3 linked regions of the Homo sapiens genome follow. The protein of the gene in region 3 purifies or fractionates together with the protein of the main gene of each other region. This does not show direct contact. Each region holds a gene or a part of one and is shown on either strand. Other genes may lie near its edges. The genes, in order: MACROH2A2, KSR2 and RSBN1L.

Region 1 (3,652 bases), on a different chromosome or scaffold from region 3:
TTTTGGAGGAGAGTGTGAAGGGCAGAGGGCTCCCTGCGCCGGCAGGACCTGCCCGGCCACCCTCCACTCCCCTGCCATCACCCCTCCTCTCTCCTTTTAAAAAGCAAAACCCCACTCTTGGGACTCGGGTCGTCCTCCGATCCCTGCTGGAAAGTGCGGCGGCTACTTGGCGTCGAGCTTGGCCATCTCCTGCACGTAGATGCCGATGCTCTCGCTGTCGAAGAGCAGGAAGTACACGTTCTTCAGCGAGGACGCGCTCGAGTCATCAAAGTGGGCTGAGATGGCTTTGAGGGTCACCTGGGCCGCAGTCTGTTTGGGAAAGCAGTTTCTGTGCCAAAGCAAAAGAAGAGCCGATGTCATTTTGGTCCCTGGGACCCATGGGAGCATGAAGTGCCTTTGTTTTTACTGGGTGGGGCCTTGCTGTGTGCAGGGCTAGTCCATGCATGATCTCCTTTGACCCTAGCCAAAGGGACAGCCTGGGGGTGGCAGGTGGGGCATGTTGCCCCCACTTTATAGGTGTCACACTGACTCGGAGAGGCACAATGATTTAATTTGATTAAATTAATTTATTTGTTTTGGGATGGAGTCTCTCTCTGTTGCCCAGGCTGGAGTGCAGTGGCGCGATCTCAGCTCACTGCAACCTCCACCTCCCGGGTTCAAGCGATTCTCCTGCCTCAGCATCCCAAGCAGCTGGGACTACAAGTGCGCACCATCATGCCTGGCTAATTTTTGTATTTTTAGTAGAGACGGGGTTTCACCATGTTGGCTAGGCTGGTCTTGAACTCCTGACCTCAGGTGATCCGCCTGCCTCGGCCTCCCAAAGTGCTGGGATTACAGGTGTGAGCCACCGTGCCCTGCCAAGCACAATGATTTTAGTCAAGGTCACAGGGCTGGCCAAGTGAAGAGTGCCCTGTATTTTATTTTTTATTATACTTTTTTTAAATTAGTTTTTTTTTCAGAGGCAAAGTCTTGCTCCATCACTCAGGCTAGAGTGCAGTGGTGTGATCATAGCTCACTGCAGCTTCAAACCTCTGGGCTCAAGCTATCTGTCTTCTGCCTCAGCCTCCTCAGTAGCTGGGACTAAAGGCGTGTGCCTATAAAAAAATTTTTTTTTTTAAATTTTTTGTAGAGATGGGTCTTGTTATGTTGCCCAGGCTGGTCTCGAACTCCTGGCCTCAAATGATCCTCCTGCCTCAGCCTCCTAAAGCTTTTGGATTTACAGGCGTGAGCCACCGTGCCAGCTCCCTATATTTGATTCTATGTCACCTGACCAAGTCAAGCTTGGCTTTAAAAATGCTAGCCATTCAGCATTAAAAATACCTGGTCTTCAAACAAGCAAACAGAAGTTTTATTAGCTCCCTCCAAACTGGTTTATATACTAACCCAATTGCTTAGTAAAGGGCAAAAATGTATGCTCCAAACCTGTCTTCGTAAGTCCTTTTTTATGCACTTAATATTTCATAGGCACAGGCCCATGTAATTTCAGCATTGTGACTCCGGGCATGGCGGGGTTAATGAAAGTTTGTTAAAGGCCCCAGGTTCCAGGGAGCTACTGATAGTGCCATCCACCAGGCTGGGCCACAGCACCAGCTTCCAGGGACACAGCCAGAATGGTCGTTAGGGGTCAGCCACAGAGACCCCTGGAGCAGGTCCAGGAGGGGCCTGTTAATAGGAATTCTTCCCAATCGCATGTATTCCAGCACAGAACAGCACTGCCGTGGTTCCACCGACGAAAGAATGCATCTCACAGCATCTCTGGGCCTGGAATGCTGAGACTCAATGCTGCTTGCCTAGGTTGATGTGTGATTACAGCAGGAACCTAGGTCTCATTATTTTCCTCTTGGGCTTCCCAGGACACAGCTATAAACCATAGCTATATTATAAAGGACAGCTCTCAAGGTGAGAGGGTGTTCAAAATTAAAGCAATAGATTGGCTAGGGGCATGAAGGGAAAGGATATGTTTTATGTGACAGCAGATATCCTCATTATGTATCTGAAACAATGCCCAGCTGGGATCTGTGACAATCCAGTCATTGCCCAGTCTCCTTTTCAGCAATCACTCGGGGACAGATTTTCACTTCTCTGGGTGTATTCATCAAAGCCTCGAACTCCTGGCTCTGCAGTCTCCCAGAGCAGCAACGGAATTCTCTGGGGATTCTGGAGCCAGAGGTCGGAGATGGGGGGCCTGAGATTCTGCATTCTGACATCGGTCACTGCTGCCTATGGACCACACTTTGAGTAGCAAGGCCTTCGAGCCTGGCGTTTTCTGATCATGTGTCCTGGACATGGACAGCTGGTGGGAATATGGACTTTGAACCTGGAAGGCTCTCAAAAAATAACACACCAGCTGGCCTCTGCCTCCCGCTCCTCCCCTGGGCTAGCCTTCCTCCTGGGGCTTTAACATCAAGGAGGCACTGGGGCTGGCCCCAGCCGGGGAAGACCTGCTGCCTAGGAGCCAGTGGGCTCGCTTCCCCATGGTTTCTGAAGGATGAAAACCGGGTTTCCTGCCCTGTCATCTGGTCAGCATACTTGGCTGTGCTGGCAGCCCTTGGCAACACCCAGATCAGATGTAAGTGGGGGAGCAGCTGATTTCCAGGGAAAAAGCCGGAGGAATCAACTCAGGGGAACTGCATCTTACCTGCCGCTGGGGAAAGGCGGGAACGCGACGGACTTTAGCTTCTTGTCCTCCGCCGCTGACAGGCAGTTTTTGATGGTCTCTTCAAGCTGTTCTTCACATTTGTCGGAGCCCCACTGAGGGATGTGACAGTGGATGACAAATTTGGCTGCGAGTCCACTGGATTGGCTGACGGCGGCTGGGACATAGGAGAGAAAATGCCGCGGGTTATTTCCTAAGGTTTCCTAGGTTATAGCCTAACCTCATCAGGTACCTGTTAGATCTGGAGATAAGGCAGTGATAGAGACGTTGGCTGGGCAGCATCCTGTGCTCCTGATGTGGACTATGTTTAACGAGAGCAAGAGCTGGGCTGTATTGCTTTGCACAGTTAGCACAAGCTTTGGGTAGAAGCGTTTAATGCTGCTCTGATGCGCCATTTTCATATGGTCTGCCAAGTAGTCCCTGGGTTGGGCTACCTCCTCACAATGGTTCCTAGTTAAAGGGACACATCAGATCCTCTCTGGTGGCTGTGGCAGGTAAAGTAATGGCATCCCAAAACATCCACGTCCTCCTCCCTGAAACCTGTGGGTGTTCCCGTACATGGCAAAAAGGACTTTGCAGATGTGATTAAGTGAAGGCTCTTGAGATGGGGAGATGATCCTGGACTGTCTGGGTGAGCCTGGGACCTGATAAGAGGGAGGCAAGAAGGTCAAAGGCAGGAGAAGGCCGTGGGATGAAGGAGACAGAGATTGGAACGATGCAGCCAGGAGCCAAGGAATGTTGCAGCTTAGAAGCTGGAAAAGGCAAGGAAGGGATCCTTCCCTGAGCCTCCAGAAGGAACCAGCCCTGCCAACACCTGGATCTTAGACTCTTAAAACTCATTGTGGACTTCTGGCCTCCAGAACTGTAAGAAGACAAATTTGTGTTGTCTGAAGCCACGAACTTTGTGGTAATTTGTTACAGTAGCCACAGGAAATGAATACAGTGGCTTTTATTTTTATTTTTTTATTTTTAGTTTTTTTTTGAGACAGAGTCTTT
Region 2 (3,652 bases), on a different chromosome or scaffold from region 3:
CTGCCTGTAGGCCATCACCTCCCGCTTGAAGGCCTTGAGCTGGTCCTCGTTGTCCCTCTCAATGTCAATCAGCCGGATGGCCACCTCGCCATGCCAGCGGCCGTGGTACACTTGCCCAAAGCGGCCCTTTCCAATGAGCTCGCCGATCTCCAGCTGCTCAAAGGGGATGTCCCACTCCTGAAGGAAGATGCTGGTCTGGCTGGCCTTGCGTGGGAAGCTCCGGGCCGAGAGGAGGGACAGGTTCATCTCCTCGAAGTCATCCTCTGACTCTTCGGCCTCATCATGGACCTCTTCATTCTGTGGCCGGAGTGGGAGAGAGGTCAGAATTGTGTCTGCCACTGCCCCAGCCTCCCTCATGGTCCTGCTGGGTCCCGTGCACATGCGTAGGTCTGGGCACATCTCTACATGCATTTGGAGCTTGTGCAGACATACGTCCCTCTGTTTCCCCAGCTCTAGAATCTGGTCTAGAATCATACTACAGTGAAGGTGCTGAAAGGGAGATCATGATCATCCACCTCTCTTGTGCTAAATGGGGGGATACTGAGGCTCAGAGAGAAGTGTTATAGGGATCGCCCATTCTAGTTTGCTGGAATCTTCCTGGTTTTAGCACCGAAAGTCCCATATGTTGCCCTGGGAAGTGACTCACTCCAGGTCATGCAGCCAGGCAGAAGAGGGACTAAGATCCAGGTCTCTGGACTTGAATATCCGATGGCCTTCCTATTCTTCCATAGTCTTTTGGTTTGGCTGTTTACGTGCATGTGATAAAGTTGACAGGCTAGACAGGCTAAAACAATGGGTACATCGTGCATCTGCATGTAACACATGACAACTGCCAACATGGAGTATCTTTTGCTTCCCCCAGGGAATTTGGAATTGATGATTCAAAAACTGGGAGAGGTCAGAGCTACAAGCTAGCTGTCTGAGGCTCCTACAGCAGCTGGGAGGGTAGGAGACATGAGAGTGAGGGGTTAACAGAATGGGCTTAACAATCAGACAAAGAGAGCTGAAATCTGGCCTCTGTATGACCTTGAGCCAGTTGCTTTACTTCCCTGAGGCTGCCTTTCCTCATTGTAAAGTGGGGGTAATAAAATCTGCCCCAGGGCCGGTGTGAGGTTTTAGATGAAGGCCTGTTAAGTTCTTTGTACAGACCTGACCATCTGTATTAAACACCGACTGGGAGGCCCGAGAAAATGCAGATTCCTGGGCCCCACCCAGCACTATTGGATCAAAATATCCGCAGGCCAGGACCAGGAATCTGCATTTTTATCATGCACACACACGACTCAGGCGTACTTCGGCGTAACTACCACTAGAGTTAAATGCTCAAGGTGTAGGGACCCACCTTATCAGCATGATATCTAGGGGTGCTTGGGGGCGAATTGCCTCTTGGATTCTCCTGCAGAATTGTGGGAGCAGCAGGTGGCCAGGGCCAGCGGGGATTCCCAGAGACCCTGGGACCTGATGAAACAGCCTGAGAAGGTGGCTTCTTGACTGGGTACAGCTCTTCCTGACCCAAAATACCTGGGCAAGCTGCCCCTGATGGCACATTCAGGAGAAACAATACAGGGGACATTGATTTCTCCCGGGATCATTTTTCAACAACCAAAATAGTCCCAGAAAAGAACACGATTTTCCTTGGAAGCCCTGACTCAATTCCTTTCAGTATGAGACCCAGAGCAGTTGCAGAGCTGAGGGGCCAGGACTCCATGGTTTCCAGCCAGGGCATTTCATGTATTTCTGCAGCCACTTAGGCAGGTGGGAAGAAGCCCCAGAGCATTCTCAACACTTCTAAGCCCAGCATCCCTGAGGCCCCCACCTCTTCCCACATATTCTTTTGAAGGCAGCGGGGCACATCCCCCTTGGTATTCACCCGGCCCTGAGCTGATCTTTCCACTAAGAATGCAAATCTCTTGACAATTTCCACACAACTGGCTTTTCCATGATGCATGCCATATAATGGCCCATTAGACTCAGTGCTGGGAGGGACCACTGCTTGCTAATTGTCCCAGAGTTAGAATATCCATCAGTCAGGGCCACCACAGCCCCCACCTGACCCCAAGCCCTCTGCGTCATCCAAAACGTCAGTCGGCTTTGCCAAGTTCTGGGCAGTCCCTGGAAAATGTCGCTTCACTGCTCTCTGATTCTCACCTCCGACGTTGGCTCCACTTCAATTTGAAGTAATGGATTTCCTTCCAAGCTGTAAAGAAAGAAAAATAAACGTGATCCCTAGGTGAAAAGGCAGGTCTATATATTGAGTTTAGCTATGTACGAAGAATCCCCAGATCGGAGGTCTTTACCACCAAGTCTTTATCTCACATTTCATTTCAACAGGTGTGTCTGAAATAATCCATAACCTCGACACACACACACACACACACAGACACACACACACACACACACACAGACACACACACACACACACACAGACACACACACACACACACAACACAGTGCGCAAGGACCTTGTTTTAAGTTGATTTTCCGGGCTGCTCAGGGCTCATTTTTCTTCATTGCTTTGGTTTCAACTTATCTAGCAGCTTTCTTATAAATTGGCCTAAATGCCCTGGGTAGATAAGTCCTCAGAGCTGTATATGTTTGCCAGGAAAGAATTAATCAGATCTCCGAAGTTCACACAAATTTGGAATTTCTTGGAAGGATCTCAGTGTTCTTGTTTGTCTGTTCATTCATGCATTCATGCGACTATTTAATAGATGTGTGTGCCAGGAACAGTGTTAGGCCCTTGGAGGGATATAGAATTGAAACTGGCACGGCTTCTGACCTTCAGGAATATTGTGTTCCTACTGAAGGAACTAAAGCCAGTATGTAGATACTATGCAGGGAGGCTAAAAGTAATAAGGCCAAAAGTTAGGTGTGAATTGGATAAATGGAGTGTCGTGGGAATTCCAAGATGAGAGAATTACTGGGTGTATTTGAAAGTTCCCAGTGTTTGAGGTAGGTCTTGCCAATCACATGGAATTAGGATGTGTGGAATGAAAATAAAAAGACCATATTGAGCTGGAAGACACAAGTGTGTGTGTGTGTGTGTGTGTGTGTGTGTGTGTGTGTGTGTGTGTGATGCATTCATAAGCTCATGAGCTGCAGTTCTGTTCTTAGTAAGCAAACATGTTGGGTATAGATGCTGGCGGGGCGTCACAATTTGTGTGAGCACTGCATAGGTATTATGGGATGTGCTTTGTGCAGGGTTGTCTTGTGTGCATGTGAGTTGGGTGTACACACAGGATGTTGAGGGGGATGCTGTATGCCGATAGTATAATTGGGTGTGCATTAGAGGTGTGAGGGGACTGTCAAATGCATGTGACATTTGACATGTGATGGATGTTGGGTACAGTGTGCATTAGAGGTATGTTGCAGGGTTTAGACTTGAGGATGTGCATGTGTTTTTGAAGTGCAGCAGGGAGACAGAACTGGGCTATTGAAGGCATGGAAGAGCTGAGACAGGTGAGAAAAAAGAATCACAATGAATACCCCACCCCTCCTTTCCTATTTCCCCAGTAGATTCCCCCTTCCCCATCCTCATTTGGGGGACCTCCCCTATCCTGACCCTCAGATTGCAGGAAGTGGCTGACTCCACAGAGTCAATCCACTTGCTGGAGGGGGTCCTGGTGAAAGAGTCTGAAAGACCACAAGAACT
Region 3 (3,652 bases):
GGTCTTGCTTAGGAAGGTCTCCTCCAGGCTTAAACAATTTTATTCTAATATTTTAACTGTTTTATCTGTGATGCTTAATTCTCTAATTTACTTCTTGTATGAGGTAGGGGCTCTGCCTTTGTTTTTATGAGAGCCAAATATGCCAGCATTATTCATTAAATACATCTTCCTCTTCCCACCTATCTCATATATTAAGTTCCCAATATACTTAGATCTATTTCTGGACTCTTATTCCAATGATCTATTTGAACTTTATAGTAATTTTTAATATCCTGTATCATAAGCTGCCTCTCACTAATCTTCTCTTTCACTGAAAAGTTTACTTCCTTATGAATTTTAAAATAATTTTATCCAGGACTGGAAGTGTTAGTCCAATTGAAATGCAGAAAATTTTAAAGAACTATCATTTTTATCCAATCCAGAACACAGCAGGGCTTTCCATTTGTTCTGATCTTACTTTATATCCTCCACAAAACATTTTAGTCTTCTTAGTATAGGTTCTGAATATTACATTTATTCTAAAATAGTTTATATCTTATGACATTTTTTCCATCCATCATTACAATTTCTTGTCATTTGCCTACATTTCTCATGCTTTATTTACATTTTAGGTTTTATAACAAATTGTATTAGCATGTATCGCTATTTTTAAATTTATATTCCAATTATGCTCTAAACTTTGCATTCCTCCTTCCTCCAATTTTCAACTAACATACACACCCCAACATACAAACACTCATCCCCTCCAATAAAAATGTGTATACAACATACCTTTTCCTTTTGAAAGGTGACTTTGGCATATCAGCCACAGGGATCATTTGTTCTCCTGGACGAACCCACATGATGGGACCATCATCACTATCTTTTCGACTCTGTAATTTTAGACTAGATAGCGTCCCCCATGGCAGTGTACACTGGAGATAAATAATTATGCAGATTGCAATTATTTTCAAAATGTATCTTCAAGTGTATGTTAATAATAATATTGTTCCCCTGACAAACACACTTTCATACACAGCTTTATACTTAAGCATCTGAAATACATAATATTGAATATATCCCTATATATTGATATACTTTGCTTCAAAAAACTGTTTCAAACACACCAAGAAAATAATTATGCTTGGATGGTTCTGTCCCTATACCCTGCTAGAGGTATGATTCACTATATTCATCATTTGTTATTCTTCCTTCTACCATATAGATCATATGATGTTAACGGACTAAATAAGCAAGTGCTCTCATAAGAATCTATAAAAATGAACAATTAAATTTAAGTTTAAAAACTGGATACCTCTTTGATTAATGATAATTAAAAACAAAACAAAACAAAATCAAAACATATTTCTGTTCAGCAGTTTCTTGAAGAGGTTGTTGGCTTAAACCAGAGACTAAAGTATTTTAAAATGAAAGAACAAGGCTGGGCGCGCAGTGGCTCACGCCTGTAATCCGAGCACTTTGGGAGGCCGAGGCGGGCGGATCACAAGGTCAAGATATCAAGATATCGAGACCGTCCTGGCCAGCACGGTGAAACCCCGTCTCTACAAAATACAAAAATTAGCTGGGCATGGTGGCGCGCACCTGTAGTCCCAGCTACTCAGGAGGTTGAGGCAGGAGAATCGCTTGAACCTCGGAGGCGGAGGTTGCAGTGAGCCGAAATCACGCCACTGCACTCCAGCCTGGTGACAGAACGAGACTCCAAAGAATGAAAGGAGAGGGAGGGGGGAGGGAGAAGGGGGGAGGGAGAAGGGGGGAGGGGGCAGAGGAAGGGAAGGGGGAGGGAGAAGGGGGAGGGGGGAGAGGAGGGGAAGGGGGAGGGAAAAAGGGGGGAGGGGAGGGGAGGGGAGGCGAGGCGAGAGACAGAGGTGAAGGGGAAGGGGAAGAGAAAAGAGAAGACGGTGGCCGGGCACGGTGGCTCAGGCCTGTAATCCCAACACTTCAGGAGGCTGAGGCAGGCAGATCACCTGAGCTCAGGAGTTTGAGACCAGACTGGGCAACATGGAGAAACCTCATCTCTACTAAAGATACAAAAAATTAGCCTAGCATGGTAGTGTGTGTCTGTAATCCCAGCTACTCGAAAGGCTGAGGCATGAGAATTGCTTGAACCTGAGAGGCAGAGGTTGCAGTGAGCCGAGATCGCACCACTGCCCTCCAGCCTGGATGACACAGCGAGACTCCATCTGAAACCAAAAACAAACAAACAAAAAAAGACAGAGAGAGGGAAGAAGGAAACTGAGGGCCACTGTCCATGGAATGTTGAGAACAAAATTAAAAAAAAAAAAAATTTCACCACACACCCCCTTTTCAAAAAGGCTTGTCAAATTTCTTTAGAAACAATGCATTTAGGTTGGGTGTGGGTGGCTCACGTCTGTAATCACAGCACTTTGGGAGGCTGAAGCAGGAGGACTGCTTGAGCCCAGGACTTCAAAGCTAGCCTGGGCAACATAGCAGGACCCCATCGAAAGAAAGGAAGGGAAAGGGAAAGGGAAGGGGAAGGGGAAGGGAAGGGGAAAGGGAAGGGGAAGGGGAAGGGAAGGGGAAAGGGAAGGGGAAGGGGAAGGAAAGGAAAGGAGAAATAATGCATTTAGTTCATGTGCTTTGAAAATTAAACTTGAAGCAACCATTTAAGTAATATTTGGTAATTTTTAAATATAGTCCAATAATAAATGCAACCTAATTCCATGATGTAACTACTAGAGAGAAGTAGAAAAGGAACAAAAAGTTTAAAAGGAAAAGAGAAAAAGGAATGGAACAAGGTTAAAGAGAAAGGGAAGAAAAAGATATATGTACATATAGGGTAAAAACACCAAGCAAACAGAAGTAATAAAAGAAGAGATGTCCTATAGATTATGTGGTATCAGAAATCTTGTCACATTCCACAGCTTACCTGGACCCTGAATTTCAGTGTAGGTTTGCAGCATTGACCTTTGAGTTACTGATTAAATAATTAACCTAACCACACAGCTCAGAGATTCCTCTCTCAGTGGGATAGCCCTAGCACCTCACAATAAGAAATACTTTTTGAAAATCAAGAGGCTTTAAAAAAAAAAAAAAGGAATCTGGCTACAAACTATTTAAAGGGGCCTGTGGTGGTGGGCACAGTGGCTCACACCTGTAATCCCAGCACTTTGGAAGGCCAAGACAGGAGGATCACTTGAGTCCAAGAGTTCAAGACCAGCCTGAGCAACATGGTGAAACCCCATTTCCACAAAAAATACAAAAGTTAGCTGGGCATGATGGCATGTGCCTGTAATCCGAGGTACTTGGGAGGCTGACGTGGGAGGATCATCCAAGCCCACGGAGGTCAGGGCTCCACATTACACCACTACACTCCAGCCTGGGCAGAGAGTGAGGCTGTCTCAAAAAAATAAATTAAATAGAGGGGCCTTTGGCTACATTGTCTAAACATGTTATTTTATGGATGATGAAACTGAAGCCCAGAAAGTTTAAAGGGCTTGCCCAACCCAGATAAGTACAGCCATGGCTAAAATATGGGTGTGTAATTTCCCAGGCGAGTTTTCCTGGAATTTAGTTTAGGAATGCTAAACTGCCATTCCTTTGTCTTAAACATTTGTAGTAGAATCCTTCCTGTACTTCTTAAGTCCTTTAGTACTTAGTTTACAAAGAGCTGATAAACACATGGAACCTAATT

The links.
Region 1: the proteins of RSBN1L (region 3) and MACROH2A2 purify together in Homo sapiens (co-immunoprecipitation; one large-scale study listed by IntAct). This does not show direct contact.
Region 2: the proteins of RSBN1L (region 3) and KSR2 purify together in Homo sapiens (co-immunoprecipitation; one large-scale study listed by IntAct). This does not show direct contact.

What each region holds. Positions count from the first base shown.
Region 1 is NC_000010.11:70,108,194-70,111,845, reverse strand, and holds part of MACROH2A2 (core histone macro-H2A.2), read right to left. Parts: intron 2,814-3,652; coding exon 2,639-2,813; intron 329-2,638; coding exon 163-328; 3' UTR 1-162. UniProt on the Homo sapiens protein: Variant histone H2A which replaces conventional H2A in a subset of nucleosomes where it represses transcription. Nucleosomes wrap and compact DNA into chromatin, limiting DNA accessibility to the cellular machineries which require DNA as a template.
Region 2 is NC_000012.12:117,524,923-117,528,574, forward strand, and holds part of KSR2 (kinase suppressor of Ras 2), read right to left. Parts: exon of another isoform or gene 3,624-3,652; intron 2,198-3,623; coding exon 2,149-2,197; intron 785-2,148; coding exon of another isoform or gene 776-784; exon of another isoform or gene 652-775; intron 298-651; coding exon 1-297. UniProt on the Homo sapiens protein: Location-regulated scaffold connecting MEK to RAF. Has very low protein kinase activity and can phosphorylate MAP2K1 at several Ser and Thr residues with very low efficiency (in vitro).
Region 3 is NC_000007.14:77,765,923-77,769,574, reverse strand, and holds part of RSBN1L (lysine-specific demethylase RSBN1L), read right to left. Parts: intron 915-3,652; coding exon 772-914; intron 1-771. UniProt on the Homo sapiens protein: Lysine-specific demethylase that specifically demethylates methylated lysine residues of proteins.